Linked DNA regions of Homo sapiens: all the other regions are linked to region 1. The links come from fine-mapping of genetic effects on gene expression. A gene starts in region 1. Each other region holds a variant in brackets. All regions are shown on one strand. Distances are between the middles of the regions. Region 1 holds the start of PLXNC1 (plexin C1). Region 2 overlaps LOC124902986 (a long non-coding RNA gene). Region 3 holds the start of LOC124902987 (a long non-coding RNA gene). Region 4 overlaps PLXNC1 (plexin C1). Region 5 holds the start of PLXNC1-AS1 (PLXNC1 antisense RNA 1). Region 6 overlaps PLXNC1 (plexin C1).

Evidence for each region. PIP is the estimated chance that this variant, and not a neighbour inherited with it, causes the effect.
Region 2: its variant is fine-mapped to the expression of PLXNC1 in whole blood (INTERVAL, PIP 0.92).
Region 3: its variant is fine-mapped to the expression of PLXNC1 in pancreas (GTEx, PIP 0.98).
Region 4: its variant is fine-mapped to the expression of PLXNC1 in blood mononuclear cells (TOPMed, PIP above 0.99).
Region 5: its variant is fine-mapped to the expression of PLXNC1 in whole blood (INTERVAL, PIP 0.93).
Region 6: its variant is fine-mapped to the expression of PLXNC1 in whole blood (TOPMed, PIP above 0.99).

What each region holds. Positions count from the first base shown.
Region 1 is chr12:94,146,123-94,150,211 of GRCh38, forward strand. PLXNC1 (plexin C1) reads left to right here and starts at 2,455. Exons shown (of 31, transcript NM_005761.3): 1 at 2,455-3,911. The coding sequence starts at 2,850. RefSeq lists silencers at 2,222-2,351, 2,362-2,611, 2,682-2,911, 3,042-3,281, 3,942-4,081 and an enhancer at 3,482-3,581.
Region 2 is chr12:94,113,443-94,117,531 of GRCh38, forward strand. The region is part of intron 1 of LOC124902986 (a long non-coding RNA gene); the gene reads left to right. Among named protein-coding and RNA genes, the nearest start is that of PLXNC1, 33 kb to the right of the region's middle. The variant T/C (reference allele first, on the strand shown) is at 2,020.
Region 3 is chr12:94,237,005-94,241,093 of GRCh38, forward strand. It overlaps PLXNC1 (plexin C1), which reads left to right. Exons shown (of 31, transcript NM_005761.3): 10 at 660-799; 11 at 3,481-3,660. It overlaps LOC124902987 (a long non-coding RNA gene), which reads right to left and starts at 799. Exons shown (of 2, transcript XR_007063410.1): 1 at 80-799. The variant G/T (reference allele first, on the strand shown) is at 1,803.
Region 4 is chr12:94,265,531-94,269,619 of GRCh38, forward strand. The region is part of intron 21 of PLXNC1 (plexin C1); the gene reads left to right. It also overlaps a transcript of CEP83 not described here. Among named protein-coding and RNA genes, the nearest start is that of PLXNC1-AS1, 91 kb to the left of the region's middle. The variant T/C (reference allele first, on the strand shown) is at 1,668.
Region 5 is chr12:94,172,686-94,176,774 of GRCh38, forward strand. The region is part of intron 2 of PLXNC1 (plexin C1); the gene reads left to right. PLXNC1-AS1 (PLXNC1 antisense RNA 1) reads right to left here and starts at 3,778. Exons shown (of 2, transcript XR_007063411.1): 1 at 3,696-3,778. The variant G/C (reference allele first, on the strand shown) is at 2,121.
Region 6 is chr12:94,178,330-94,182,418 of GRCh38, forward strand. It overlaps PLXNC1 (plexin C1), which reads left to right. Exons shown (of 31, transcript NM_005761.3): 3 at 3,117-3,251. Among named protein-coding and RNA genes, the nearest start is that of PLXNC1-AS1, 3.9 kb to the left of the region's middle. The variant C/T (reference allele first, on the strand shown) is at 2,546.

The DNA.
Region 1 (4,089 bases):
TAAGATGTTGTTTCTTTTTCAAAATGAAGCAGCAATGAACTGAGTAGTGATCAAAATGCCGCACCACAGAGTATGTTTAATCCAAATAGCTCCCAAGATGGTCTGTGACTGATTGTACCAACTCTACGGGACTTAGAGAAATGACTTGGTTACCAGTGAAGTAAAACTATCTCTGGAATGGAATTGAACTGTTGCTTCTCAGCACATAGCGACACTGCCACCGCTGGTTCACGGAGCCAGTGAAGGTCACTGAGTTCTGCATCAGTCACAGGGAAAACTGTCAAAACACCAGCGCATAAATCCCCTACTATGCTGTGGAGGGGGTCTCTGAGCTTCGGATGAGGTTTTTAAAATATTGATCTTCCCACTTCCAGAGGTGCAAAAATTCTGAAAGCATTCCAGGAGGGCAGGGAGTGGGGGAGCAAGGCCAGATATTTTGGAGCAGGTGAAACATCTGACTTGTCTTGCCTGAGATGTCCCGATTAACACCAACTGGGTACTTTAGGCCTTTCCCCTTCTTCCTCCCCTCTCCTTATGGACACTCCAACACCATCATCACAGCACAAAGGGCAACCTCATATCTCGTGGGAAGGCATTTTCTGCCTCCTGCCAGGCAAAGATAATGTTATCCAATTGCAAATGAAAGGCTTATGAATGAAAAGATGACCACTCTGACTTTAGTGTATGAGAGCCACTGCTGAAATGATAGGATCCTTGAACTTCACATCTAGAGCAGAAACTCACACTTCTCTTCTTCTCCCTCCACCTCACCCTTCTTTCCTTAAGCCTTCCAGAACTCCTGCCATATCCCTCAGCACTGGGGAGAACTTGAAGCACTGTTGGAGAAGTTTGAAACCTGCAACCTTCGGCAGGACTCAGCATGGGACAAAAGCCACCTCATTCCTTTCCCTTCCCAAAACAGCATCTCGAGCTGGGGAACTTGGAGGGAAGGAAGAAAGGGGATAGCAGCCAATTGCCCTCCCTGGGGCCTGGGGTCTGGAAATAGCCTGGGAAGGAACAGAGATCATTTCCCAACGATCCATAGAGGTCCTCAGCACCCTCCACTCCTATGCACCCCCTGGCTCATCTGCCAGACTGTAAGGGTGCTGATGGTGCCCGCAGCTGCCCCGGGAAGCTGGGAGGCATTTGTGCATCCTCTGGGAAGCCCCATTCCGAGAAATCATGAACCTATTCCCCAGTGGGCAATGATTCCCTGTGCTTCAGAAATTCTTGGCGGCTGTGGGGGCAACCCAGCTGTTATTCACCCTCTGGGTGAGGTGGTGAGACCTCAGGGGGTCCAAAGGATAAAAGTGGGTAATGATGAGACAGATGGAGAGCCTCGAGGGAAATACGGGGACTTGGGTCTAATAGTAGAAAGCAGGGCGGGGGCTGGTTGGTGCATTTAACTTGAGGAACTTTTCAGTCTCACTACAGAGAATGATCTCTGGGGGATTATGGCAATGGCCACAGGTGGCACTTAACTAGAGCCAGGTATGTAAGAGGCCCTGGGGCTAGATATGGATTCGAATCTCGGCTCTGATATCTACCAGCAGTAGAATGCCAGCACGTTCCACAACCTTTCTATAACCATTCTCCTGGACTACTAAGTAGGGATGACAATAACAGTCACTAATTAATAGGGCTGTTATGAGAATTATGAGTCTTAACCCATGTGGTGAGTTCACAAGCGCACCCGGCACGTAGTAAGTGCTCAGTAAATGTTAGCCCCGCTCATTAGGTTAGATGGTGAGCAGAACTTTCCAAGTGCTAGGCTTGAGAGCCTGGGACTCTGTTGCCAAGGGAGATTAGAGAACCTTTGCAAATATGGGCGCTCCGGCCCTGGGGATTGTCCAGAACGAGAGTGTGGCGCCTGCCTTTCTGCCACCTCACTCATCCGACCCGGGGAAACCCACACCCTGTCACAGGGGCGCCTTGGTCCCCGGAGTCTCCGGCTCGGCCATGTCTCCCGCGCGCCTCCCCGGGGCCTCCCTCTCGCCGCTCCACACCTGTCAGCCGCTCTCGCAGCAGCCCTGTGGCCCGAGCCCGGGGCCTCAGCTGCAACCCCTTCGCACCCTGGATCCTCGCTCCGCGCGCCTGGCGTATCCCCGACCCGGCTGCTGTCGTAAACAAAACCGGGCGTTGGAGCAGCACCGCGGGCGGACGGGCGCGGGAGCCCGCTCCGTGCGCCGTTAGCGCGCCCCGGGAGCCCCAGGCGAGCCAAGGGGGCGATGGTGGCGGCCGCGGCGGCCGCGGCGGGCGGCTGAGCTTTGTTATGAATAGATGAAAGAGGCCACCTACACAGTAACCCAAATTACGAGACCTCCCTCCTCCCTATCTCACCGAATCAAGAGGGGAGGGGAGATGGGCGTGGAGGGAGGGCGGGCGGGCGGGCAGGAGGCGGAGGGCGGAGGAGGAAGAGAGGATGAGGAAGGGGGCCAGTTGCATCCCACTTTCACAATGGGAAAGTGAAACGCACAAGCGCACCCAACCTCTCCAGCCCTCCCCGCCCGCCTCGCTCCTCTCCGCCCGTCCCCTCCCTTCCCCTCCGCGCCTCCCCGCGAGCGCCAGCGCTGCACACAGGAACTCTCCGGCGAAGGAGGGCGAGGAGGAAACGGTGCCGGAGCGCGCAGGGCTTGCTGCCGCCACCGCCGCTGCACAGGCTGCCGGAGCGAGCCTGCCGCGCGCCGCCCTCCCCGCTCTCCTTCCTGGGCGAGCTGCGGGGATGGGGCGGCCGCGGGAGCCCGAGCGCGCGCAGGAACCGCCGCCGCCGCCGCCCGCGTCTCCGTTGCCGCGCGCCTGAGCCGCCGTCGCCGCCGCGCGCCCTGCCCGGGGGCGGCCCCCCCAGCCCCATGGAGGTCTCCCGGAGGAAGGCGCCGCCGCGCCCCCCGCGCCCCGCAGCGCCACTGCCCCTGCTCGCCTATCTGCTGGCACTGGCGGCTCCCGGCCGGGGCGCGGACGAGCCCGTGTGGCGGTCGGAGCAAGCCATCGGAGCCATCGCGGCGAGCCAGGAGGACGGCGTGTTTGTGGCGAGCGGCAGCTGCCTGGACCAGCTGGACTACAGCCTGGAGCACAGCCTCTCGCGCCTGTACCGGGACCAAGCGGGCAACTGCACAGAGCCGGTCTCGCTGGCGCCCCCCGCGCGGCCCCGGCCCGGGAGCAGCTTCAGCAAGCTGCTGCTGCCCTACCGCGAGGGGGCGGCCGGCCTCGGGGGGCTGCTGCTCACCGGCTGGACCTTCGACCGGGGCGCCTGCGAGGTGCGGCCCCTGGGCAACCTGAGCCGCAACTCCCTGCGCAACGGCACCGAGGTGGTGTCGTGCCACCCGCAGGGCTCGACGGCCGGCGTGGTGTACCGCGCGGGCCGGAACAACCGCTGGTACCTGGCGGTGGCCGCCACCTACGTGCTGCCTGAGCCGGAGACGGCGAGCCGCTGCAACCCCGCGGCATCCGACCACGACACGGCCATCGCGCTCAAGGACACGGAGGGGCGCAGCCTGGCCACGCAGGAGCTGGGGCGCCTCAAGCTGTGCGAGGGCGCGGGCAGCCTGCACTTCGTGGACGCCTTTCTCTGGAACGGCAGCATCTACTTCCCCTACTACCCCTACAACTACACGAGCGGCGCTGCCACCGGCTGGCCCAGCATGGCGCGCATCGCGCAGAGCACCGAGGTGCTGTTCCAGGGCCAGGCATCCCTCGACTGCGGCCACGGCCACCCCGACGGCCGCCGCCTGCTCCTCTCCTCCAGCCTAGTGGAGGCCCTGGACGTCTGGGCGGGAGTGTTCAGCGCGGCCGCTGGAGAGGGCCAGGAGCGGCGCTCCCCCACCACCACGGCGCTCTGCCTCTTCAGAATGAGTGAGATCCAGGCGCGCGCCAAGAGGGTCAGCTGGGACTTCAAGACGGCCGAGAGCCACTGCGTAAGTCCTGCCCCCGGGGCGCCGCGGAGAGCGCTGCTGCCGGGGAGCCGCCGCCGCCGCCGAGGCAGAACGAGCTGGGGGCGAGCGGCGGGGCGGGGGTACAGCCGGGTGACATTTACCAGGTCTCAGGTTCACACCGCGGGCGGCCGTCCGAAGGCTCCTCTCGGACGGTCCCCGA
Region 2 (4,089 bases), 33 kb before region 1:
TGTAGTTCCAGCTACTTAGGAGGCTGAGGCAGGAGAATAGCGTGAACCCAGGAGGCGGAGCTTGCAGTGAGCTGAGGTTGCACCACTGCACTGCAGCCTGGGTGACAGAGCGAAACTCTGTCTCGGGGAAAAAAGAAAAGAAAAGAAAAGCACAATGCATGCAATGAGCCTCTATTGTTCCGGGTCCCAGTTGAAAACTTGAAAACATTCTGACCACTCAATATGAGAATGATTAAATAAACAATGGTACACACAATATTGGAGTGTCATATGATCATTAAAGGTAATGTTTCTTCAGACTAATGATCTTGGAAATGTCTCTTGGTGGAACATTAATTTTCAAGACAGAATACAAAATTCATCATAAAGCATGATCTAAATTGTATTTGGAAAAATGTATATGCAAATAAAAAGACTAGAAGCAAATTCAGCAAAATATTAACAGGCTATCTATTAGTGGCACTATTGCTGGTTTTTATCTCCTTTTTATACTACTCCATTTCTCCCAAAATGTGCTAACTTAATAAATAATTTAAGTGAGTTGATTTAATTGAACTAAAATTCAAGCACTTATTAAACACGAGGCATCACTAGCAATTTAATGATGGGCAGAACATAAACGTGGTCTCTGTCCTGAAAAATTGTTTTTATAGTTTTTTTTTTAAATTTTACTTTAAAAAGCAAGATAGGCCAAACATGGCGGCTCATGCCTATAATCCCAGTACTTTGGGAAGTCAAGACAGGAGGATCGCTTGAGCCCAGGAGTTTGAGACCAGCCTGGGCAATATAATGGGACCCCATCTCTACAAAAAATTTAAAAATCAGCTGATCGTAGTGGTGCACACCTGTAATTCCACCTACAGGAGCCTGAGGAAGAAGGCTCGCTTAAGCCCAGGAGGTCAAGGATGTAGTGAGTCATGGTCATGACACTGCACTCTAACCTGGGTGACAGAGCAAGACCTTGCCTCAAAAAAAAAAAAAAAAAAAGGAAGAAAGAATATTCATCATCACTCCTAGAAAACAAATTCTCTCCAGGGTAAGTGTTATCTAGCAGCGTCTTGAAGTGTCACCCACCAAGAGTACCAAGGACTGAACCTTGGTGAATGTCCATTTGTCATTTCTGCCCAAAGCAAGATGCTTGGAACAAGGACTCTTTCCTGGCAGTGACACAAAACTCCCCGCTCTACCACCCTAGAGTAGAAAGCCCCTTGTACCACTTACTTTATAAAATTCAGTCCCCACCTCCCTGCATGCTTACAGTCACTTCATTTCCAGCCCTCCTGAGGGTACATTTCCAAGGATTCTCTCCTGGGAATCAGCCTTCAAGGATTCTAGATGGAAATGCCACGTCCCCACGTGTCTGAAACTTGGCTCCACTACTTGCTGGTTCCTAACGGTACCCAAAGCAGGAGTTTGTGATTAAACCACAGACAAAGCACCAGCCTGAGCAAGCAAGAAAACAGCAGGAGCCCAAGGACTCCTGTGAGCTAAGAGTCTGATGGTTTTCATGCAAATTGTTTTTAGTAGTAGGGAGATAACAGGCAAATAAAATATGGGAGATAGGCAGAGATTTTTCTAAACCAGTGATGGGGGCGGGGGAGTTCTTTCATAAAATCCCAGTGCATCCTTAACAGTAAAGCTATAAAGTTCCCATATTTCTTATCGAGTGGAATAAAATTTGTCTCTCTCAGGGATCCTCCTGCTCCTCCTCTCCCAGCCTAGCACAATCAATGTCTCTTTCCCCTTCTCTAACGTTCCATCTTAGCCTTGACTGAAGAGTCTTTTTCAGAATGGCAATGCTTTCCAATGATGAAAAGCATATTATCAGAGGACGATTTTAAGTGGTAGACAAAATGAGCAATATTTATTCTACTAGCTGTCTATTTATTTTAATGCACTTAGAGTAAAATCTGTCTAGCACATGAAACCTATGATTTTATTATAGGCTATGTTGGCCTAAGTTTTTAAAAGGGAATTAATATAGAGCCAATAAAGAGAAAAGCATTCAGTGAATCATGA[T/C]ATGCATGGTAGGCAAACGCAGGAAGAAACTGTGATGTGGGGCCTACGTGCATGATATTTGGAAAATACGAGTAGGAATTCTGCAACAAATCCAACTCAGCTCCTGGGGAGGGGCCACAAAAATCAGACGGTTCATTGCCGTAACTCAGATGTAGACATTTCCATTTAATTCTGGATCATAAATAAGTCTTTACAGTTCTGAATCCTGGAACCTCCTGAAGTCTAAGATCTGAGTCTTCAAGCTGATAGACTTGGCCTTCAGTAGGGAGAGGTGTTTTGTTTTTAAAATCAGGAAATTTCACATAAAAATGCAGGTTTCTTGTTCTCTTTAAAAATTAAAGATCTGGAAAACCGGGTCTACATCTCTGAGTGGCAATAATCAGGTGACCATAAGCCACAGGAGTGGCTATTATCTGATACTAGGACCTACCCCTGCACTCCTGTGACTGGGGCTGCCTCAGAGACAAAGGCTAGAAAGGGAGTTCCTCCTTTTCTAAGATTTCTCTGCCCTTTCTCCACCTTCTCTTTCTTCTCTCTTCCCTCGCAATCCCTCCTCACCCATACACGTACACGCACACTCATAAACATGTACATACCTCCAGGAGATGAAGACAACTTCTGTCTTCCCTCACTAATTCCCATGGTTTATGTGCCTCAATGCTGGCCCAAATTCACTGGTAATTCCCATGTTGATTATTTATTGCCTTTTAGCTATTTGATTGGCAGAAGATCATATGAAATCATCTAATATGTTATTTTTGTGTAGGATGTGAGATAGGGGGAAAAATTCCATTTTCTCCCTAATTAGTAGATCATGAAGAATAGTAGAGTAGAGAGACAACAGACACATGAATTGGAGCCAGAGTATTTGAATTTGAATCCTAGTTTTCTCATTTCCTGGCTGTGTGATGATCATGGGCAAGTCATTTGACTTCTCTGCACCGTAATTTCCTCATCTGTAATACCAGGATGACAGTATCTATTGAATAGGATTGTTGTAAAGATGAAATTAGTGAACATATATAAAGTGCTAGACTAGAGCCCGGTATACAATAAGGGTTATACAAAGGTGGCCTATTATATGAGTAATGGTCTTCCATTCTATGAACTACCACTGGAATAAACTTTAACTCTGCACCTTGAAATTATTACATCAGTTGTATTCCTTTACCCAACACCATTTATTTAAGGCAAATAAGTGCCAGGCACTGCATAGGGCACTAGAAATATAAAAAATAAGAAAATGTTCTTGCTCTTCAAAGAGCTTCCTATCCCTAATGTATTTGGAATTTGAAGTTAAATTAAGAAAATAACACACAATCATGTTTAAATAAAGATTAAACTAAGCAAAAATCATATGATGATTGTTTAATACGAGTCTTAAGGAGAACAAATAATTAGAATCATTTCAGATTCAGTCCACAAAAATCAATCTTCCAAAAAGTAGGGACAAGATGAGATTTTGAAAGATACCCTCAGGGCCGGGCACAGTGGCTCACGCCTGTAATCCCAGCACTTTGGGAGACTGAAGCAGGTGGATCACTTGAGGTCAGGAGTTGGAGACCAGCCTGGCCAATATGGCGAAAACCTGTCTTTACTGAAAATACAAACATTAGCCAGGTGTGGTGGCACGTGCCTGTAGTCCCAGTTACTCTGGAGGCTGAGGCAGGAGAATCACTTGAACCTGTGAGGCGGAGGTTGCAGTGAGCCAAGATTGCACCACTGCACTCCAGCCTGGGTGACAGAGCAAGACTCCATCTCAAAAAAAAAAAAAAAAAGAAAAGAAAAGAAAAAGAAAGAAAGATATCCTTTAGTAAGAAGCAAAGTCTTGAACTTTGGACCAGAAGAATAAGGGCCAGAGGAAACTGATGGAGGCTTTCAGAAGATCACCAAGGGTCTGTGAGTTACACACACACACACACACACACACACACACACACACCATGTTTGAGGGAACACAGGCTAGTAATGGGAACCAGGAGAATCCATTCAGGGTTCAGAACAGGTAGAATCTGTTCAGTTCTTTTTGTGATTTTAAGTTTCTTGAATTCGCTCTGCTTAAGTATTCCT
Region 3 (4,089 bases), 91 kb after region 1:
AGGGACATGTTCTTGACCTTAGGCCTGATAAAGTCTATTGAAACTGGGTAGCAAGAAGGAGGTTGTGGTATCTACAAACCTTGGTTGGCCACAGTGGTTTAGACATCCAACTACTTGATAGTAGGTGACTGAACAGGTTGATTTCTTGAGGTTTTTCCCCCTGCAGTATCCTCCTGGATTCAAATAGCCTCACTGTAACAAAAATATGACTGCTTTCTTGGGAACTGAATTTATCTGGAATGACATTTATTTCAACTTAACGATGAGTCTGTCATTGGCCTACGGTCAATGGACTCTCTTTCTTTTCCTTGATTTTGCTTACATTGTGAGCCTCCAGAGGCTGTAAGGCAGTAAACATTTTCAAAACTCTAGTGATACCTCACTCTTCAGACAGAATATCAGACTTTTCAACTGTATTTTCAACTGTCTTGTGAGACAAAGACTAATTGGTTTGACCTCATGCTGTCACATGTTGAGAGACATGAATCTGCAGCCCTCTTCCTTGAATTCATTGATTTCATTAAACACTGTCTGCTTGTGTTCGCAAAATGTTGTAATTTCCCAGTGATTTCTTCGAACTGCAGCGTATAAACAGATTTTTTTGGAGCGATGCCATTTCTTAGCTTTGATCTCCTGTTTTAATCTTTTCTTTCCAATAGGTCTTCTACATTAAGTCCATTGAGCCACAGAAAGTATCGACATTAGGGAAAAGCAACGTGATAGTAACGGGAGCAAACTTTACCCGGGCATCGAACATCACAATGATCCTGAAAGGAACCAGTACCTGTGATAAGGATGTGTGAGTCGAAATACTAATAATTTATCCTCGGTAACGTAACGCTCAAACCTGTGCCAAAGGAATATCAGTGTGATTATAACCTTAATATAGTCAAATTATTGCCATGCCCCAAAGCAGGCCAATTAGTCAGAGTATTTGACATAATATAATTCCAACACGTAAAATAATTTTCACAACAGATCTGAAGTTCATTGTGAGAGAATCTGTTCTGTGTTATTCCCCAAAAATCTCAGTATATAGTCATTTCAGGATGTTGCCTGTTTGGGGTCTTGATTCATTTTCAGTAACAAAATCAAGTATATGGAGTAGCAAACATCATTCTTTAGGTGATGCACTTGGAAAAATAGTTGAGTACCTTGAAATTTGATGAGGAATTTTTTGGAGCAGCTCTTCCAGTGTGCCACCCAAAGTTGAAAAAACAAAACCTCTTGGATCCATTTTATGTGGACATTTTATTCTTTGTAGCCTTCTCTTTACTGGTTTGGTTTCAGCCTCCAAAAATTAAATTACTACTACATATAATGGTAGTAAAAAAGAACACCCCAACATAAATATCTGGTCAATGTATCTCTTGAACATTATTATTTCTGTCACTTCTTTCCCAAACTCATCACATCGGTGAAACTTGGAGAAAGACTTTTCAATTTCTACCGATGTCCTTGTGCAAATGGTTACTCCCCCTTCGAAAAAAAAAAAGTGATGTGATAACTGCAGTTATTAAATAACACAACAGATTATTTGAGTTTTCTGCTTGTTAACTCATATAAGTTTGGGCTAATTTGAAGTAAAAGATGTTACAGTCTACATAGAGTATAATACTAAGCTTATTTTCATCATGGAAATGCATTTAAGACAATCTGCTGAAGCGTGATGTTTTGATTTTTAACTACTAAAACAGATTTGTACAGCATTCTAATCTGCTATGCTTATTTACTGAATTTTCTTCTTTAATTCATTTTCTGCACATCACTGCCATGCCCTTCCCCTCATAGCAGTAAATTTG[G/T]AATATCTGTGATCTTGATGAGAAAAGCTGCTCATTGGTGGCTTGCCTGTGTTCTGCTATTTGCCAGAATTATCAAGCACACATTAGAGGCTGTATCTATGCAACATAGGTTTTTTTGTGCTGTTTATCCTGGCTAAATACCTTATTGCAAAAATCTTTCATTTTATGTAGCGAAATCTGTGAAGTTAGACACCTGTGTATTCACTGAAAGGCAATCAACTTCATGGAAAATAAGTAGTTTTTCGGAGCATTACCCTGTTTCTGACTCTTTATGTTCTCATTTTAATTCCGAATGTGTCTTGAGATACTGCAGTTATTAAATTAAATGACTAGGAGACCTTTCTGCATGTCGCATTTCAGTAACCACATCTGTGTGGTGAAGCCAAGTTCACAAGCAGTCAACATAATACTCAGTTAATCCTATACCTGAGCCCAGGCTGTAATCCCAAGCTCTTTTAATATGGTACTTTTAAAATGGGTAATTATTTTAAAGAGAAAAATACTAGTAGTGGAATGACCTACATTTTCACCTCTCTTCTTCTGAAATTTATAAACAAGTTTGAATTTTAATGTTCAACCACTTTATGATAAATTTCCTAGAGCTTTGCTCTGAATATAAACCTGAAAATGTGCGTCTGAGGTGGCGTAAGTACAAACTGACTCAGATGTTTTTGAATTTGCCTTATCCTAAAGGGTTAGTGATAGCATTAAAGTTAATCATCATGCACATGGCCTTTAAGTAGTAATAACAGATTCTCATGTAGCACGGTTATACTGAGCATTATTCAGACACAACCCAGGCTTAATGATTTGTGCTTTAGAGGATCATTGTAGACACACAGAGGAAGCTGCAGGTGACAGCGGGAATGTCGGAGAAAGCTTCGCTCTGACTCTGAAAGGGCGCCAAGCATCAGCTGTTGGACATCAGGAGCACCCTGGACAGCCCCAGCTAAGTCCCAGCCTGGATACTCCTTAGGGAGCATGTTGGCCCCAATGCTGATTGATTCTGAGATGCCTGGGCTCTTGGTTTAGGCCCCCTTTGAACAGCAGAATTTCCATCTCTGTCTGGTGCTGTGTTTTACCCTCTCAGTGCTTGACTAGGGCTTTTTTTCTTAAGCTTTTTATTATGGAAACTCAAACATAATACAAGAGAGATGAGTGTAATGAACCTCTCTGTAGCCATTCCCGGTTTCAAAGCCTATCAACATTTTGCCAATCTTGCTTCATCTATCTTATCTGGGATTTTTGGGGGGGCATGATAAGAACCAAACACCATATCCTTCACTGCTAAATACTTCAGTACCTCTCTAACAGATAAGCCATAGTGCCATTATGATACTCAACAGAATTATCCACAATTCTTAACATAATGTAACCCCCAGTTCATGTTCTGCTTTCTATTAGTACTTCTTCAGGGCAATGGTTACACCTCCTTCCTTTCCCACTTCTAAGGGCAATGCAAATAAGAAAGATAAAAATGTACTAAAGAAAGAGGAACCCAACCCCTAATAATACCAACTTGGGTCACTGGCCCCTCATGAGTCAGTAGTTGCCTGCAGCTGTTCTGCTCCTTCATGAAGTGTTGTAGTTCAAGTGAAATTCATTTGCTGTCACCTTGGGTAATCAACTGTGCTAAGTGTCTGTGTCATGTGAGAGTTCTTTTTCTACTCTTTTCTAGGATACAGGTTAGCCATGTGCTAAATGACACCCACATGAAATTCTCTCTTCCATCAAGCCGGAAAGAAATGAAGGATGTGTGTATCCAGTTTGATGGTGGGAACTGCTCTTCTGTGGGATCCTTATCCTACATTGCTCTGCCACATTGTTCCCTTATATTTCCTGCTACCACCTGGATCAGGTACTTTCTAGATTCATAATCTTTTTCTCATTGTGGTTAAAGGTCATATGCCCAAAGATCATTGATTTTATTCAAGTAAATTCAGAAACAGTGGTCATTCCAAATTCCTCTCACCGAGTTCTCCTTAGGATTTACTCCTAGAAAAATGCATACCTGACAAGACATTTGCTTCCCATGCTCATCGTGAATGCTATGAGCACACCTTTTTCCCTTCACCATGGCTGCTGAGAAACTCACAGCTGAAATGTTTGCCTAGGTTTTTGATATAGATATATGACACTCTTTACTATGTGTCCCTCCTGCTTGTGATAAAAGGCTTCTTTCTTACCTCTTTCATTTTATAGACTTTAGATACTTTAAGCTGTTTTGAATTCTTTGGGGGAAATATTGGGAGCTATCAAAATGAAAAGCAGAATCAACCTTTTCAAG
Region 4 (4,089 bases), 120 kb after region 1:
TTCAGCACTTATAATTGCAATCAGAATTTCTCAAATGGCTCTGCTCTGGGAAGACAATGTGTGAAGATATATTTCAATCAAATTGAGGCCGTCTTATTTTAGAATGATAACACAAGACAAATTCCACCACGTTCCCCATGCAACGTGACGCCCTTTATTTTCATGGATTAGTTACAAATGTTTGGTGTCATGCACTTAATGTACTGTGATCTCATAGATATTTTTAGAGGAACGCTGTAAATCACTACAGGAAGATGATTGCCTAGCTGCTGGAGGGTTTCACCCGCTTGAGAACTTCTTTCTAATTCATCCCCACCGCACCCACCCCATGCTCTTCCTAAAGAAAGAAAGAAAGCCCAGTTTGGGGCACATTTGGGAATTTCAGAGAGGGAGCCAAGCAGGGAAGGTAACTTTAGAATTAGGAATTTTCTATGCTTTTCTGTTAGTAGAGACTTGGAGAAGAGATTGCTGTGTTTTGGTTTGATCTTTAGCTTTATGAAGATTCTGGGCTTCTTCACGATCTCGTTAGTGGAGGAGGAAAAGATTACAGTGGGGTTTGGGAATTGCTCATTAAGAGAGCTGAGTCTTCTGTGGCTTTGCTCTGGATGGTGGGGACTGCAGTGTCATCTGGGAAGAATTCATTCCCTAATTGGAGAAGGCACCACTTTGCCGTGGAGCGTGTTATGGTTATGTCCTCTGGTGGGAGAATAGTCCGTAGGTCAGCTGTTTCAAGTTTTCTGCCACTGCCAGATGCGGCTCACTTCTCCATCAAAGATGGCACCATGCACAGCTGCCATCCGAGAGCGGGAAGCTGAGCTGAAAGTCAACACTTCTCAGCGTTCTGAATTGTATCAATACACCCATCCACATCTGAGAGGCCGGAGAGTGGGCTGCATTGGTTCTCAAACTTGAGCATCTAGCAGAATCGCCCAGAAAGCTCACTAAACACCAGTCGCTAGGCAGCATGCTGGAGTTTCCGATGCAGTAAATCCAGGCTGTGGCCTGAGAATTCACTTCCCTAACCAGCTTCCTGATGCTGCGGGTGCTGCTTAACAACTGTTGGTAGAGTGGTTAACAGCATGGACTCTGGGGCCAGACATTTTGGAATCCTGCCTCTGCCACTGGTTAGCTGTGTAATGTTGGGCAAGTTTCTAAACCTCTCTATGCCTCATTCTCCTCACATGTGAAATGGAAATGATGGTCATGGTTCCTACCCATCTCATGAGGTGTTTTGAGGATTAAGAGTCAGTATTATAAAAAGCACTTAGAACATTGCCAGGCATGTGAGTGCTACCTAAAACTTTATTCCATTTGATCCAGATCTCATTGAACCCTTGTTTAAAATGCAGGTGCAAATATACCAGTGCCCGGGCTTTCCCTCGGGACTGACTGAATCAGAATCTCTGGGGAGGGAGCCCAGGCGTGGATGTATTTTGTAAACCTTCCAGATATCTCTGATGTGTGTTCAGCCTGGACACCACTGGGTATCTTGGAGAACAAGAGACAAACTTTGCACAGGGCCTGTTGACTCACCTTTCGCTGATCCTGGGCTTGTTATTCCTAACCTAGAAGATGTTCATGCCTTTACTTTAAGACGTTTTAGAAGCCCCAAAGGTCTCCAAAGAGAAATATTTGCAAATGATTATAGTCGGGAATCCTCCAGCATT[T/C]CAGTCATGAGACAACACCGGACCCAAACAGGAAAGACAGGAAAGGAGAAGATGGGTTGGAATCAGGAAGAGGTCAGATGTCTGAGGCAACTTTTGAGGTTTTGAAGCCTTTTTAATGCTTTACATCTGAACGTGTTTTCTCCCTTTCATTTCGAAACATTATTTATTTCACAGTCAATTAAGACCATGTGTTTCTGATTTGTTAACACTCGACTCATCATCATAATGTTACTTGATGCTGAAGGAATTCATGTCGACTCTTGAAATTTTTTTTTCTTTATAGCCCCTGGGGAAAAGGGTAATGGAAAATCATGATTTCAGAAATCCACATAAATCTTCCTTTTCAAATTCAGATTTGCCGGTACATAAGATTTGAGCCTTGAAAAGGAATGGGCCACTTGTTTTTAGGGGCCTTGCCTTTAAAAATGATTGTTAGTGCCTCTTATGGGGCCTGGCCCAGCCCCCCTTTCATGGTTGGCAGTTGTACGAGAAGCTGCAGAGAAGGCACATGATCCGTTCTATGCTTGTGTGACAAACTGTTAGCAGAAGGTCAATATAAAAAATTTAAGTTTTTCATTTCCTTTCAGGCATTTCCCCCAGCCTGAACCACCATATTTCTAATTTTCTTTCTTCCTCCCTTCCCTCCTCCCCTTCTTTTTCACTTCCCCCACCTACCCCTCCCAAGCATGTACACCCAGCCATTTTAGGACTTGATTTCCCAAATTTGCCTGAGGTGGTTTATGTAATTGAAAACCAAGGTGCGGTGAACAAACTGATTCTGTGTGTCCTTGTGTGCTGGGGAGGTGGGAGGTTGGGGGCAGATTCTTTCAAGGAAAGGAAAGTCGGAAATCAAGAGCATCCTCACGAACCACTTGAAATGACAGAACCTGGTGCCAAGGCAGGGACACGTTTGGAAAAAAGGCCCCCACACTCGTGTTCAGCTAAATGCTCAGAAGCACAGCACCTCATATAGCAATCTAAAAGTTAGCTTTCACACCTCTCAGATGAGGATGTGTTCTCCCTGAGGTGTGGGGGATTTTCTAGAACATAAAGGCATCTTGCCAATTTCTTATACATGAAATCATGACACTAACAAAGAGGCCCTGGGAAGTAATGTTCTCTTCTTGCATATTGAGAAGAAAATTCCTCTGTCTTGCCAAAAATCCAAGCAAAGTCCCCTAGAGCCATACTTCCTCCAGGACCATAAGAAACCATCCTTCTCTATCAAGCATTCCAGGCTGGTGTTTAATGAGGCAACAGTGAGACAGAATGCCCTGATATCTGCATCCTCCCTAATGTCAGCACCAGGGGTAGGGCTGTGCACACACAGGACTTTAGTCTTTCCTTAATATCTAGGAATTCAGATCAGACAGCTGGAAGAGAATAAGACCTTTTTTTTTTTTTTTTTTTTTTTTAATTTAAGGAATACCACTCTAGTGCAGGCTGGAGTGCAGTGGCGCAGTCTTGGCTCACTGCAACCTCCGCCTCTGGGGTTCAAGCGATTCTCCTGCCTCAGCCTCCCAAATACCTGGGATTATAGGCACCTGCCATCATGCCAGGCTAATGCTTGTATTTTTAGTAGAAACGGGTTTTCGCCGTGTTGGCTAGCCTGGTCTTGAACTCCTGGCCTCAAGTGATCCACCTGCCTTGTCCTCCCGAAGTGCTGGGATTACAGGTGTGAGCAACTGCATCCGGCCGATAATAAGACCTATTGCTCTGCTGGGTTTTTTTCCCCTTTGCAAAATTTTGAACATGTTTGATTTTGTTGATGGAGTATCTCAGACTCACTCAGCTTACGTTTTGTCAAGAGTGGAACTTTGGAGGAGTTAGTGAAAGTTTGAGGATTTCACATGGGAGAAGGGACATTTGCTTCACTTTCAGGAAGAGATGAGAAAAACCAATAACTCGTAGCAAGCGTGCTGAATTAGCAAGAGAAGGTTGACTTGTAATCAAAGTTAAGTGTGAAATGGTTTTTTGAACTCTTAGAAAACGAGCTTGCCAATCTGCTGTATCTGAGAGAGAGCATCTTGGCACCCTGGAAAACTGTTCCGACAAAAATATTATTGCCTTCATTCTCCTATCTATAAGAAAGTTTTCAAGATTATTAGAAATTCTTGAAAAAGCACAAGTACATGCCTGCAGAAATATTAATGCCTCCAATTTGATTTATTGAAGGTTTATGCCAGCCTACCCCAGTCTGTCTCTTTCTCTAGCAGTTACCATTTTGGGACAATTACGTTTAATAAAATATCTCATATACAACAGAGCCCTAGGTGTCTCCACCAGGAGTTTCTTACTAGTATACTTCCTTTAACAGTGCTCTGCCTACCAGTGCTGGCTGCTTCTGTTCCATTTAGTTTGTCCTTGCAGAAGATCCATTAGCCCCGTAATTAAACAACCCACTGTCCCGATTAAGTCATTC
Region 5 (4,089 bases), 27 kb after region 1:
AACCCTTTGTAAAAAGTATTTTTAAATAACTATATCATATTCTATTATTTGGGTACATTATTTTGAACTTAAGCTAAGATACTGGATCACTTTTAAAGTATCTTTAAAGACATGCATTTTCCAAGGAAGACGGCATTACCTCCAAAGGTAAGATTTCACTGATAATCTGTGAAGAAACTAAAGGCTACAGTATGCCAGTACCTTTACTGTCCTCCTTCTCTTGCCTATAGACCTAAGTCCCTTTATAAGATTTTGGGGAAATAGAAGGAATTTAGAGCTCAAAGGGTCCTTTGAGAGCATCTAATCTGCTCTTTTATTTTATCGGTGTACCGTCCCATGGTCGTGAGGTGAGTTATGTCTAGTCACCCCCGCAGTTATTTCCCCATCCTGCTTCTTTTCGGAACATGATTGCATGCCGGGTTTTTTTCAGTCGTCAGCATCTCCACTGAGATCAGCTGAAAAGTATGGTCACACTGAACTCAGCTTTGGGGAATTCACACTGCACGTGTTGCACAATGTATGCATTTCTGTAAACACACACCGAGTCTTTCTCCAGATTATAGTACAGCCTATCATGTGGTTTGGATTCCTTTGAGCTGACTCTGTTGCCCATAGAAAATTGTCCTTATTTCAAAGGCAGAATTGCATATTTTGAGCTTTTCCAGGTGGTAAAGTAAGTAATAACAGAATATGCATGAAATTTGAAATTTGTAACTTTATGCATGCCCATTAACCTTCGTGTAAGCATAAAAGATAAGAAGGCAATGGGCAAGGAAGAATAATCGCTAACATTTCTGAGCTCTTCCTGTGTGCTGGGCATTAGAACCAGCATCTGCACGGGTTAACTGGTTTAATCCTTACCAGTCAATACTCTCACCATCCCCACTTTATAAATGAAAAAACCTGAGGCCTCGAGAGGTTAGGTATCTTTTTCAAGGTGCTCTGAACCAAAATAATCTGTCCCAGAGCCCGAGCTTCTATCCCCCAACTAAACTGCATTAACTCTTACAGAGCTTAGTAGAGTTTGAGAGCTGGTTTTTGTTATATTTCTTTCTAATACTGGGGTATAAGGGTTGATACCAAGATGCAGATGTTTGAGGTTTCATAAGAAGGGGCCGAGAACCCTGTGGTTTAGTTTGTTCCTATTTGGGGATGGCTTCCTGGCAACCCAGCTGAGTGCAGAGCCCGCTCCTCTCTGAGCTGCGCGTAGTCCACGGGGGTCTCTGAATCTCCTTTGGGGCCCCAGCTTTACCCCAGTGGGCTCCTTTGTAGGAAAGGTAGGAATTCTGTATTCAAGTTGCTGTTTTGAATGGTGTCAGCAGTAAAGACTAGTGTCTCCCCGACCTCCCAGGGACTGCAGTAGGGTTCAGGATACAGGAAGCTATATCACATAGCTCTATCCTGTCCCCATATCCAGTCTTGAGGTATTTCCTATGTGCTTGGGCTCAGACTGGTTACCTATGTGGCCCTCTACTCCCACTTAATGGCTTTCTTTTGTTTATTTTTTTTTCTTTTTTGAGCCAAGGTCTGGCTCTGTTGCCCAGGCTGGAGTGCAGTGGTGCAGTCTCGGCTCACTACAACCTCTGTCTCCCAGGCTTAAGCGATCCTCCCACCTCAGCCTCTTGAGTAGCTGGGACTACAGACCTGTGCCCCCACACCTGGCTAATTTTTTTGTATGGACAGGGTTTTGCCATGTTGCCCAGGCTGGTCTCAAACTCCTAGGCTCAAGAGATCCTCCCACCTCGGCCTTCCAAAGAGCTGGGATTACAGGCATGAGCCACTGCACACGGCGCCACTCAGGGATTTCGTTTATTCAAATCACAGCAAAATTAAACCGGTTCCAAAAAGTTCTGTCTGAATTCAAACAGAAGCAAAAACTCTGTACTGCCTAAAGAGTCTGCCTTGACTCTGGTTATTGAAGTTTTTGAATGAATGTCAGAGAAAAAAATCTTTTGTAAAGGCAAGCTGTACTATATACCCAGAAGATGTTCAAATAAGGAATAGGAGAACTTGGGGAACCTAGAACAGGACCTGGGACCGGAAGTGGTGGTGGTGGTGGGGATGACTGAGCTAACAGACCAAAAAGTTAAAACAGGAGGAAGTGTCAAAACTTGGAAGTG[G/C]GTTCATTGGTTGGCTGTTTAGGATGTCATGTGAAGCCTGCTTCAAGTTCTCCCCACCTCATTAATTGCAATTTATGAGTTTGCAGGGACTCCCCAGTTTGAAACTTTTAGTCCCATATAATCCACAAATCTAGAACCTGTGGTTCAGACTGTATGCTTCTCTTACTACCTACACTGCAATAAGTAGATTGGAAACAAAAGAGAAATTTGCCTTGATCTTTATATTTCATCTTTGTTACTCCTAACTACTGAGGCACATTAAATACTTACCTTGCTTTCTCCTGTGTGTGCATGTGTGTGTGTGTGCACGCATGCACAGGCATGCACGTGTGTGTATATGTATGCAGGCATGCACGTGCATATGTGTGTGTGAGCTTGTGTGTGTGTATGTGTGGTTTAAGTCTCCTTCCCAGCATTTCTCAGAAACTGCTTATGGAAAAAAATAATAATAAATGAAAGGGTTGGCTTGTTTGCCCTTCAACTGGTTAGCCCCACAGAGTGAGGCATAGGAAATTAAATTTGGCATAAAATATTATAGCTTTTTGAACACCCGTGGCTTTTCCATCTCATGGTAATCGTAAAGAAAAAAAAATAGTTTTTTGTTTAATTTTTCTCCCCCCTCATTTTCCTCACCATGATATCCTTCCTGTGGGTGATCTTGAACCTGTCTTACAATTGTATGGTGTTGAAATCTCCACTCAGTTAATTTCAGCAGTGTAGTTGGGAGTTTTATATGCAACAAAAATCCCAAGGCTCGTTAATAGTCTACCATGAGGCTTCAGGAAGACATCAACAGAAACAATATGTTGACACGAACTGAAATTCTCCATCAGAGAAAATTTGTTTTCTACACAGGCTTCAGCTGGAAAAAGCTGAAGAGCCCTATAAAATCTTGAATGCTAATAGCGTCGTTTTTCATTTAATAAATATCTACTGGGCACCTTGTATGTGCCAGGCACTGTTCTGGGTGCTGAATATACAAAGGTGAACAAAACAGACAATGCCCTTGCTCTGCTGGTGGGAAGAAAAAGACAGAAAACAAGTAAATGGATTAATCAGCGATAAAGACACTTCAGATAGTGCTATGAAGAAAATACAGTGATGGGTAGAGAGTGACAGAGGTGTTCAGCGGAGAAGTGATCAGGGAAGGCTTCTCAGAGGAGGTGATGTTGGAGACTTGAAAGATAAAGGAGTATACAAGCATACACATGGAGAAGGTTCAGATTGACTTCAGATTAGATCTATATTAAGGTCGTATCCTGGAAGATAAAAATCCACATCGTGCCCAAGGATTGTGTGTGTGAATTGGATGAGATTTCTCTTATGCAAAATTCAACCCGTTTTGGGTTTTTGTGACTCATTGTTACTTCCTGCATTGCTTCACTGATCATGTTCTTTTTCCGAGGCTGCCCACCTAAACTGAGCTGAGGAAGGAACGTTTCCCTTGCTCCAGTCTTGCTGGCTTTTGTCTGTGTGTTGATATTCTCCTGAAGTTTGCAATTAGAAAGTCCAAGTGTTCCATTAGTGCCTGTGGGCTGGGGCTCGGGCTAGGTGAGAGATGATATGAACACTGACCTGTCCTTTAGTCATCTGAGAGAGATGAGACTCCAGGGGCCACGGAAGCAGAAATCCCTCACCCCTCTGTGTAGCACATTTGGGACCTTTGTGGTGAAAACTAAAACTTCCTCTTGTCCTGTCCTCAGGATTATGGAGAGCATTGTTTGCATAATCTAGCAAAAAGAAAAACAATTTGACTCACTCACCCTCAAGGATTTTTAAATTTAAATGTTATATATTTATTTTTAAGGTAATACAATGATATTGTTTAAAACTCAAAAGAACCAAGAAAATATTCCGTGAAAGGCACCTGGTCTTGACTTCCAAGGCAACCAATGATAGTAGTTTCATGGGTATCTTTCCAGAGATAGTTTATATCTGTCTACAGGCAAAAGAGTGAAGATATTCTTCC
Region 6 (4,089 bases), 32 kb after region 1:
GCAAGAATACATTATGGGTGGTGCTGCCCAATGATGCTTTTGCCATGATGAATTCCTGAAGAGATACCAGGGCAGCAGCTTCTCTTCTCTTGACCCTTCCTTGATAATATTTCTATCAGTGTTTGTTTAAAAAAAACAAAAACTGGCTTCCTGTTTCTCTTTCCCTATACAACTGCTTTCCAGAACCAGATCAACTGAATCTGAGCTGATTAATACAGCTAATGAATTAGAGACGGCAAATCCTGGCAAGCCCATACCTTGGTCAGTGCCTGTCCCTTGGCTCCACTTACAGGATTCTGTAGAGCAGTGTTGGCCAAGAGAACTTTCTGTAGTGATAGAAATGTTCTACATCTGTACTCTCCAGTATGGTAGCCAGTCACCTTAGGTAGCTAGTGAACACTTGAAATGTTGCTAGTGTTTTTAATTAAATGTAAATTTTTAATTAAATTTAAATAGCCATTATGTGGCTAGCGGCTGTCATATTTGATAGTGCAGCTATAAAGTCGTTTTAAAATGACTTGAGACACACACCTTTCCCACCTCCCTTAGGACCTAACTGCTTCTGTTTTAAAAAGAGCTTTTAAGAAGTCATATTTCATATGTTTGGTTAGTGAGATTGACTTTTACAAAGCTGCTGCTGAATTTGATGAGCAGTCCAAGGGCTTCAAGTGAGCCACTATTTGCACCAAATCCACCTGGGCTTGGCCCAAGCAGATGATGGAAGGAAGTCACTGATCGCAGGGCAAAGCTAGACTCGGGCCCAGGTCCTGGAAAGGAGAAGTGAATGCGGGAAGTTGCTCTGTGCAAAATTGATAAGAAGCCTTTGGCTAAACAGCAAATCCCTAACTGCCATCAGGATATGTGGGAACAGGCATATTATTGATTAGTAGATGTGTGAAGTAGACTTTGTCCAAAAAGAATCTCAGGTGCCAAATTTTTCTTTTGAAACCATGCGCCCAATGTGGCTGATGTCTACAGTGGTAGAGATATGAATACAGATAATCTATCTGGATGTGTTCAAACTGACAAAATGTTGAACACCTTCACTTTTCAAAGTAGTGGGTACAAATTGTGTTAGGTACAAAGAAGATTAAAGGTTAGGTACAAAGGTGATTAAGACATGGTCCCAGGCCAGGCACGGTGGCTCACGCCTGTAATCCCACCACTTTGGGAGGCAGAGGCGAGCGGATCACCTCAGGTCAGGAGTTCAAGACCAGCCTGGCCAACATGGTGAAACCCCGTCTCTACTAAAAATACAAAAATTAGCTGGGTGTGGTGGCGCATGTCTGTAGTCCCAGCTATTCAGGAGGCTGAGGCAAGAGAATGGCTTGAACCTGGGAAGCAGAGGTTGCAGTGAGCCAAGATCGCACCACTGCACTCCAGTCTGGGCGACTGAGTAAGACTCCATCTCAAAAAAAAAAAAAAAAAAAAATGACATGGTCCCTGCGCAAAAGGAGCTTGCAATCTAGTAACAGATTATTATCTATTGACTATTGATTATGTGCTAAGCATCTTTCATAGTTCTTATTTGATCCTTACAAAACTGTAATAAGGAAGGCACTATTAGCCCCATTTTAGAGATGAGGAAATTGAGGCCTAGGGAGATTAAGTTACCAGTTCAAAGTAGTGCAGCTACTTAAAGGATGGAGGCAGGATGCAAACTCAAGCTTAAGCCACCATTATACTTCTCTAGCACTATAGGATTCGAGTCTCCCGATGGCTCTTCATACCCACACTTCAAACCCTGCCTTCTTACCATCTCCTCTTGCTCCTTGACCCAAAGCCCTGCCATGGCCTCCTCTCTCTCATCTACAGTAAAAGGCAGGCTGTTTACACAGGCCCACAAGACCCTTGATTATCATTCCCCTGTTATCTTACTATCTTACTGTTCACTCCTCTACCTCTCTCCACTGAAGCCACCCTGGCCTCCTCCCATTTTAGTTTCTTTGCACTGACAGGGCTGCTTTTAAGAACATGTTTCATTCAAGTATGAAAATAACTCATCTCCTGCAAGTCTAAATAAATATCACCTTTTCAGTGACACCTACCCTGAACATATATTCTCTTAACCCCTGACCCCACTATATTTTATAATTTACTTTTTTCTTATTAATAGTCTGCTGTTACTCACCCCACCATACACACACAGGAATGTAAGTTCTATGAGGTCAGGAGCTCTCCCTTCCCCATTTTGTTCACTGCCATTTTTCAAACACCCAGAACAGTGCTGGGTACATAATGGGTGTTGGGTAGATGTTTGTTGACTGAAGATGGATGAAGCTCAGGTGTGTCCAATTTCAAAACCACTGAGTACTGAGTCACACTTGCGTATATTTTATATGTGAACACAAACCTACTTGTCTGTATCTGCCAAGTTAATCTGGGTCACTTCTAACTGTATGATGATCAGAGTATCCTGTGCAAATACATGTGGGAGCTACTTCCTTTAATTTCCAGTCTCTCTTGAGACAGCACTAATGAAGCTGTCACTTGTGGCTTCCTATAGGGCCAGACATGGTCAGAAATTGTGGTCAGCCAGCTTCCA[C/T]ATATGAGGATACTACCCCAGCCCTGAAGAGCGGCTTTTTTTGTTTGTTCATTTTTGGTAACTTTGCCTTTACAAAAGAAGAAATATTATGCTTGTTATTACCAGCCTTGTTGAGGACTGAGATGTGGGAGGATGATTAAGGAGCATGGTACCTTAGGCAGTATTTGTAGTGAGTGAAAAAGGATGTAGCTTTATGATTAAGCTACAATTTTTGCCACCCTGCTATTCAAAGTGTTGAATAGAGGCCGGAAGTGGTGGCTCACACCTGTTACCCCAGCACTTTGGGAGGCTGAGGCGGGTGGATCACGAGGTCAGGAGATCAAAACCATCCTGGCCAACGTAGTGAAACCCCATCTCTACTAAAAAAAATTAGCTGGGTGTGGTGCATCTATAGTCCCAGCTACTTGGGAGGCTGAGGCAGTGGAATTGCTTGAACCTGGGAGGCGGAGGTTGCAGTGAGCCAAGATCATGCCAATGCATTCCAGCCTGGCGACAGAGCGAGATTCCGTCTCAAAAAAAAAAAAAAGTATTAAATAGAAATCATGTTTCTCTTTTTGAAAAAAAAAAATAGGTTATTCTTGGTGAGAATTTGACTTCAAATTGTCCAGAGGTTATCTATGAAATTAAAGAAGAGACACCTGTTTTCTACAAACTCGTTCCTGATCCTGTGAAGAATATCTACATTTATCTAACAGCTGGGAAAGAGGTAGGTAGAAATACTAGTTATTGCTTCTGATTTATGAATAAAAATGGTTTAATTGATGTCATTATCTAGTAGCAAAGCTTTTACTTTGAACTACAGAGTTTAAGCAGTGCCCCAGGCTTTGAGGAGACCCGCAGTGGTTCACAGGCACGGAATTAAAAACCTTACTGACTGTCAGTAAGTAAGCAAGAAATATTATCTATTTAGACAATTTTATTATTGGCTATATTTCCAGTGCCAAGTTTTTCAGAGGAGGGTGTGCTTGGAAATGGGCGCATAATCAGCAAGGTAACTGAATTTACACATTTATTGTGTGGGCACTGAACGGTTAGATGCATTTATGAATATACCCAATGGGACTGGCTTTGGAATTTGGGGTTAATATCAGGCCACAGTCTCATACACATTCATGAACCAGGAAATATATGGTACTCCCCCTCCCCCTCTTCATTTATCTTGCTGTTTTGGCTTTTCTTTTGCTTCTGCTTACTGAAATAAAAGTAATATATTTTTATATTTTCTTCATCTTTACCAAGTGCTGTCACCAAGGGAAGGGGAAAAGAAACTAATTGTTAATGAGTCTCTACTATGCATTAGTCACTATTCTTTGCATGATCTCTGTCTAGGTGCATAGAATTGTGTACATATACATACACACAAGTGTAGAAAACAGTGTTAATGAAATGTGTTACTGACCGGGCATAGTGGCTCATGCCTGTCACCCCAGCACTTTGGGAGGCTGAGGCAGGAGGATCACTTGAGGCCAGGAGTTTAAGGCTGCAGTGAGCCATGATCAAACCACTGTACCCTAGCCTGGGTGATGGAGCAAGACCCTGTCTCA